2 linked regions of the Homo sapiens genome follow. The protein of the gene in region 1 purifies or fractionates together with the protein of each later gene. This does not show direct contact. Each region holds a gene or a part of one and is shown on either strand. Other genes may lie near its edges.

Region 1 (3,652 bases):
CCCATAGACATTTTTTTTTTTTTTGCCTTTTTCTCCATTGCCCAGGCTGCAGTATAGTGGCACCATCATAGTTCACTGCAGCCTCAAACTCCTGGGCTTTACACAATCCTGGCCTCAGCCTCTCAAGTAGCTGGGACTACAGCACACACCACTATACCCGGCTAATTTTTTTGTACAGAGAGGGTCTCTCTATGTCGCCCAAGCTGGTCTTGAACTCCTGGGCTCAAGCAGTCCTTCAGCCTCGGACTCCCAAAGCACTGGGATCATAAATGTGAGCCACCACGCCCAGCCTGAGCTCACGCTATAAATGCCCCATATTGGTTTTTCTCCCTCAGTTTCCAGACAACCCCTGCTCTGTCCTGAGTCCCATATTTCTGCCATAAGAAGCAGGTTGCCTCACCGTTCCCCGGGGGCTGCAATGGGGGCATCACAGGGGACTTTGTGAAAGGCATTAGAAATGATAAATTCCCTAGTGATCAAGTGCAGCTCAGATGGGACAGCTGGCCTCCCACCCATCCCTCTGACTCTCAGCTTAATCATTGCCTAAGGAGTGGTTTTCACTCGGTTAATTTAATGAGTGCTCTGTATTTCTAGTACACACGAAAAATGCAACTGTATGATCTTCCAGCCAGGTTGGGCCTCTTGGCTTAGCTTTTCCCAGAGCTTGGTGCTTCATCTTTGTTCAGGAAGAAAGGAGGTCTGTCTCTCTTCTCCTTCCCTCCAAATGCAGACGGAAAGTCTCGTCCTCTGAGGACTTGCAGAAAGGAGGAATGTCTCAGGAGGGATCATTTGGGGAGCTGCACTCCCAAGGAGTTGAGAAGCAGCCTGGTTGAGTAACTGGGAAAGGCAAAGCAGCCTGACTTGGAGAGGGGCCCGGATTAATGTGATTCCAGAGGAGGTCCCGGTAGAGAGAAGTTTGGGGACTACTGACTTGGAGAAAAATCAGAAACCCGGGTCTTAAGAGCCCTTCCTCTTCAATCCTTAAGCCAGGCATTGTGCCTGAGGGAAGAAATAGTGGCTCTTATGAGCTCTGCTAGAAAAGTAACCCTTCAGGCCAGGCGCGGTGGCTCACGCCTATAATCCCAGCATTTTGGGAGGCCGAGACAGGCGGATCACCTGAGGTTGGGAGTTTGAGACCAGCCTGGCCAACATGGAAAAACCCCCTCTCTACTAAAAATGCAAAATTAGCCAGTCATGGTGGCAGGTGCCTGTAATCCCAGCTACTTGGGAGGCTGAGGCAGGAGAATTGCTTGAACCTGGGAGGCGGCGGTTGCAGTGAGCTGAAATCGTGCCATTGCACTCCAGCCTGGGCGACAAGAGTGAAACTCCATCTCAAAAAAAAAAAAAAAAGAAAAGAAAAGTAACCCTTCACAGCTTACCCAATGCACATCCAAGTTTCCAGTGACACCTCTGAGCAGGCTAAGCAGCTGGTGGCTCCTGCCAAGCCCTCTCCTCGGAACTGAGCTTCACAGCTTCAGGTGCCAGTCCCTTGCTGACACTCCCAGTCTAAGCTGTGTGTTAGTCTCCAAGTTCAGAAACAACACAATACATGGGTCATAGGAGAAGAACCTCGACTGAGGCTAAAAATACCATAAAGTTAATCAGGCAGTTTTATTAATTATGAATTTATTAATTCAAAACCTATTCAAGGATTTTAGTTTTTTTTGTTTGTTTGTTTGTTTTTGTTCTTTTTTTTTTGAGGTGGAGTTTCACTCTTGTTGCCCAGGCTGGAGTGTAATGGTGCGATCGCAGCTCACCGCAACCTCCGCCTCCTGAGTTCAAGCCATTCTCCTGCCTCAGCCTCCTGAGTAGTTGGGATTACAGGGGTGTGCCACCATGCCCGGCTAATTTTTAGTAGAGACGGGGTTTCTCCATGTTGATCAGGCCGGTCTTGAACTCCTGACCTCAGGTGATCCACCCGCCTCAGCCTCCCAAAGTGCTGGGATTACAGGTGTGTAGTTTAATGTCTTTTAAACCTAAGTTGATTGAATGTAGTATGATAATACAGTGTACTGATTTATTAAAACTCTAAATGAAATGATCAGCAAAATCATACTATTTGTGAACTCATCATTGCTTTTTTTGTTGTTTGTTTTGAGACAGAGTCTCGCTCTGTCACCCAGGCTGGAGTGCAGTGGCGCAATCTTGGCATACTGCAACCTCTGCCTCCCAGGTTCAAGTGATTCTCCCGCCTCAGCCTCCTGAGTAGCTGCGACTACAGGCACATGCCACCACGCCCAGCTAATTTTTGTATTTTTAGTAGAGATGGGATTTCATCATGTTGGCCAGGCTGGTCTCACCTCAGGTGATCCACCCACCTCTGCCTCCCAAAGTGCTGGGATTATAGGCGTGAGCCACCGCACCGGGCTCGTCGTAGCTTTTCAAGTCAATAGAAATCTGGTGTTTGAATCCACATCATGTCTTCCCTTGTAGGTGGGCAGTTGCAGTGTGTAGTGTGCATGCACACCCCAGATTTATGCCCAACTCCACTGGATGTTTTCTGGGTGGGGAGTCATCCATACCTCCCTCAGCGGCCCCGTTCCTAGAGACGGGAGGCCCTTCCCACTAAGACATATTCCTCCTGCTCTCCATGGTGCAATGTAAACATCTTCTTTCTCACAATGTGGGACTGTGGATTTAAATTTATTATTGCTAAGCTCAGATGTTTTAAAGCTTCCTGTCTACAAGCCTGAGAAAATCTCTTCATACTCTCCTTTCCTCCTCTCTAGTCAAATTGTAGCCCTGGCTCCCTAAGACACAACCCTTTAGAGACCCAGACTGCAAATTTCTTTTTTTTTTTTTTTTTTTTTCTGAGATGGAGTCTCATTCTGTTGCCCAGGCTGGAGTGTAGTGGCACAATCTCGGCTCACTGCAACCTCTGCCTCCTGGGTTCAAGCGATTCTCATGCCTCAGCCTCTTGAGTAGCTGGGATTACAGGCATGTACCACCATGCCCGGCTAATTTTTGTGTTTTTAGTAGAGATGGGGTTTTGCCACGTTGACCAGGCTGGTCTCGAACTGCTGACCTCAGGTGATACGCCCACCTCGGCCTTCCAAAGTGCTGGGATTACAGGCGTGAGTCACCGCGCCCAGCTGGGACTGCTCATTTCAAATAGAAATTAGATTATCTTCTAGGATGAGGAGGGACACTTTGGCCTTCTTTGTCATGGGAGGCTGGCACTCTCCTCTAGGACCCTGGGGTGTGTCTTGAGAGCTCGTGCCCAGGGCTATAACACAGAGAGGCCTGTGCTGATGTCATCTTGTTCTGCCCTTTGCTGGCAGGGTGGTTCTGGGGAAGGGCAGAGGCTCCGGGTCCCACTCTGGGGCTGTTTTCACGGGGGATGGAAGGACCATGGCCACTGAACGGGCTGCGGTCCCGTCTATGGACACAATGCCAATGGGCAGCTGCAACAGTGCAGCCAAGGGGAAAGGAGGATGTGCGAGTTGCCCTGGAGAGTCCCTTCCCAGAGCGCCGCCTCTGTCCACCCTGACTATATGACCAGTGGAACCAAGGGTGTGGCTGAAGCTCTCAGGACAAAGGCCAGGGAGAGGAAGCACCGGCTGTTTTTTTTAGACTCTCTTCGAGCACCCACTACCCCCACTGCCCCCAAGCGAGGCCAGGTGTAGGTGGCATCTCCAGCCCAGGTGGCCAT
Region 2 (3,652 bases), on another chromosome or scaffold:
TTATGCTTATTTTTAAAATAGTAATTATTTATTGTGTACTCATTGTGTCTCAGGAACTATGCTAAGCATTTTGTTTTCATTTTCTCATTTCATTCTCTGGATGGTCCTATGAGGGCGTTTCATTATCCTCACCATTTCACAGATGAGGACATTAAGATTCAGAGAGCAAGTAACTCTCTCAGTCACTCAGGCGTTAAGAGACAGATTCCACATACAAGCCCTGCTCTGCCTGATGTCAAAGCCTGTACTGTTAACCCCTCTCTCTATACTGCTCCATGCTTAGATAACTGGCCTATCATTTGTGTTCCAGTTTGATGAAGGTTTGCATGTTTATTTCTTTTATTTTAAATTCTAAGGTGACTGGGTATGATCAGTGATCAGAGTTGGTGGCTTATAGCATGATCTTCTACTCATCAATGTTAAAAATCAAGATAATCGGTTATTACTAATCTTTGCTATAAGGAAAATGCAATTTTAAAAGTTCTTGTATGGCTTAGTTTTCATTGCTCTGCTCTGAATGAGCTATATAATGGGTCTTTTTGCTTCTTTCTCTGTTCTTCAGTGTCACTTATTCCTTCAAGATGTGCTGACTACCATGTTTTAGGAACAGAGCTGGAGGCTAGGGATACAGGAATAAGATTTGATCTCTGATCTCAGTATGCCCACAGTTTGGTGGGGATACAGAGGAACAAAGAAAGCATATTTCTCTTTCTCTGAGTTTTAAGGTCAGAGTGGGAATGAATTACTTAGTCCTATGAGTAAATCAATAAACTTGAATTTAGAGTGATAATACTTGCTGGTTTTACACTTACTTCTGTGCCTTTGGCAGGAGAGAGGCAAATATTGTTGATTATGTGAATCTGGCACTGTTTGGGAGGATATGCTCAAGAGGCTTGTATGGTAATGACAAAGAATTACATAAATTGGAACTATTTTGGATATAATTTTTTTCAGGAGTCTCACAACTCAAGAAAGAAACGGGAAATTACTGAAAAACAGATAGATGATAACAGAAAATTTTCTTTATTTGCTGAAAGAAAATACCAGACTCTTGTAAGTATTTTTCAAGAGCTGTGAATATTTGAGAGGATGAGGGGAAGGATTTCTTCAGAACAATGTCTTTTGATGACCATTCTTCTTTTTCTCTCTAGAACTGTAGCGTGAACGTGAACTGTGTGAACATCAGATGCCCGCTGCGGGGGCTGGACAGCAAGGCGTCTCTTATTTTGCGCTCGAGGTTATGGAACAGCACATTTCTAGAGGTATGACCTTGGCTTGAGGCTGTCCCATGGAAGTAATTTGCCTTTGCCTAGGACACTTTTCACTTCCCTAATGCATTCACTGTCTCCAAACAGGAATATTCCAAACTGAACTACTTGGACATTCTCATGCGAGCCTTCATTGATGTGACTGCTGCTGCCGAAAATATCAGGCTGCCAAATGCAGGCACTCAGGTGAGAGGTTCCCCAGCTTCATTCAGGTTCAGAACATGTCTCTTTTCCCTGTACCCCACACTCATGTCCTGAAGTCATGTGCTTTGGTGCTCATTTCCCTCATAGCCCCATTACGGAGAAAACTGTCTTAAGGTACTGGCACTGCAAGCTGTATTTTAATAGAATCATTGAAAAAAAGAAGTAAATCTAGGGTCATCCAGTTCAGCAGTGCCCATGGTAGGTTTGAGAACTACTGGCTCAATTCAGAGAATGGGTGCACCTCACAGCCCTCTAGAAACCTGTGTCTTCTACCATCTCTAATGCTGCAGCCATTGGTGTAATGCCCCAGTGATGGCCCATCCCTTGGCCAGCTGTAATTATTAAAAAAGATCTCTTCATAGCTGACTCCTGAACTGAACCTTGTAAGTCCCTGGTTATGCCCCTCAAACAAGTCTAAAATAAGTTCTCTCTCTTGGCCATGTAGCAGCCTCTCAAATAATTGAAGGAAATGGTCATGCCTCCTTGGATGTTTCTTATTCTTCTCAGAGCTTATGCACCCAGCTCTTGAGTTATGCGTCACATTGGGCACAGCTGAACTGGCTCCTGGCCTCTCCCTTCCTGGGCAATTTGATTCCCACGTGGACAGAGCAGCTGAGGTGGGGTCTGCTTGGTCCCACTTACCCTGGGGCCTTTACCTCTCAGCATCTCGGCACCACACTTCTGTCAGACCTGCCTAAAATTTGCTTTTTCAAACCATTGCTGAGCAGCATGTTTGAATTTCTAGCAGCTGCTATTTTTGTGTTAGTGTTCTACTGAAACTTCCAGGTGTTTTCATCAGAATTTGTTGTCAAGCTGTGTTTCCAGTATCCTGTCCTTGAGCTATTTGTAAAAATCTAAATGTATGCCTTTAAGTGTATCCTTACATTTTATGTGATTTGCTTTGGGTCCATTGTTTCAGTTTGCAAAGTAATTCTGAATCTTGCTTCATCATTTGCTTTCTCAACTTTCTATCCCTGAAAGTTTTAAAAACTGAGAAGCATGTTCTCTATGTCTTCATCCAGGTAATGACAAATATGTTGAATAGGACTAGGTGTAGAACCTTGTAGTGAACCAATAGTGAGGGGTTCCCTGTGGGAGTCTAGAACCCACAGGGACTTGTATAAAGATCTCGAGGCAGAATGACTGCATGTCATGGTGGGAATAATGAATGGGAATGTTTTGCAAAAGAGACTGGAGAAAGAAATACTGTGAATTACTGTTCTTAAGTTAATCTGCCAGTCTACTTATGGAAATGTTCTGGCTTCAGTCATTTAGCTAGCTGAAAATTCAGGGAGCCTCCCTAATCATTCTGTTTTCTGAAATATAGCAGTCCTTACGATTTATTATCCAAGCAAGAATACATTTTTGTTTTTATTTAGTTTTTTGAGATGGAGTCTTGCTCTGTTACCCAGGCTGGAGTGCAGTGGCGCAAACACAGCTCACTGCAGCCTTGAATGCCTGGGCTCAAGCAATCCTCCTGTCTCACCTCCTGAGTAGCTGGGACCACAGGCATGCCACCACGCCCAGCTAATTTTTCAGTTTTTTTTGTATAGCCAGAGTCTCACCATGTTGCCCAGGCTGGTCTTTAACTCCTGGACTCAAGCAATCCGCCTGCCTCAGCCTCCCAAAATGCTGGGATTATAGGTGTGAGCCACTGCACCCAGCCCCAGGATACATTTGCCTGAGACAAATGCTGTACTGGGCAAGCTGCTGCGATAAGTGGTATCAACCAGCACTGTCCCGGTCTCTCCAGGACATATCAACAGGCATCATAAGGGACTTTCAAATAAACCACACCTTCCCTAAGGATCCTTTCTCTGCATCTATAAAGGCAGCAGGTATAGCTTTCTATAACTGTAAATCAGCAACTCTGAAAATCACTGAGATTTCAGAGCTAGACAGAGAACACTTTAGAGGGAAGGGACTAACATTAATGAAGCCTTAATAAAATGTCTGCAGCTTACTAGATACTTTATACTCTATCATTCAAACTTCAGAAGAATGCCAAGGGTAAACATTGTACTCATTTTACAAACAAGGAAGCAGACTCAGAGAGGGGATATAATTTGAGACCCTCAATTGAAACCTGTAATTGTCTGACTTCAGGGCTTCTGTTCTTTGACTCTGTGGCACTTGGTCCCCTTAAAGTCCCCAAATCTCAAATTGAGATAAGAAAACTG

The links.
Region 2: the proteins of CD9 (region 1) and ITGA6 purify together in Homo sapiens (co-immunoprecipitation; 3 studies listed by BioGRID and IntAct, with this or other methods). This does not show direct contact.

Annotation. Positions count from the first base shown.
Region 1 is NC_000012.12:6,206,891-6,210,542, forward strand, and holds part of CD9 (CD9 antigen), read left to right. Parts: intron 1-3,652. UniProt on the Homo sapiens protein: Integral membrane protein associated with integrins, which regulates different processes, such as sperm-egg fusion, platelet activation and aggregation, and cell adhesion.
Region 2 is NC_000002.12:172,490,070-172,493,721, forward strand, and holds part of ITGA6 (integrin alpha-6 isoform b preproprotein), read left to right. Parts: intron 1-954; coding exon 955-1,053; exon of another isoform or gene 1,054-1,151; coding exon 1,152-1,262; exon of another isoform or gene 1,263-1,355; coding exon 1,356-1,454; exon of another isoform or gene 1,455-3,652. UniProt on the Homo sapiens protein: Integrin alpha-6/beta-1 (ITGA6:ITGB1) is a receptor for laminin on platelets. Integrin alpha-6/beta-1 (ITGA6:ITGB1) is present in oocytes and is involved in sperm-egg fusion.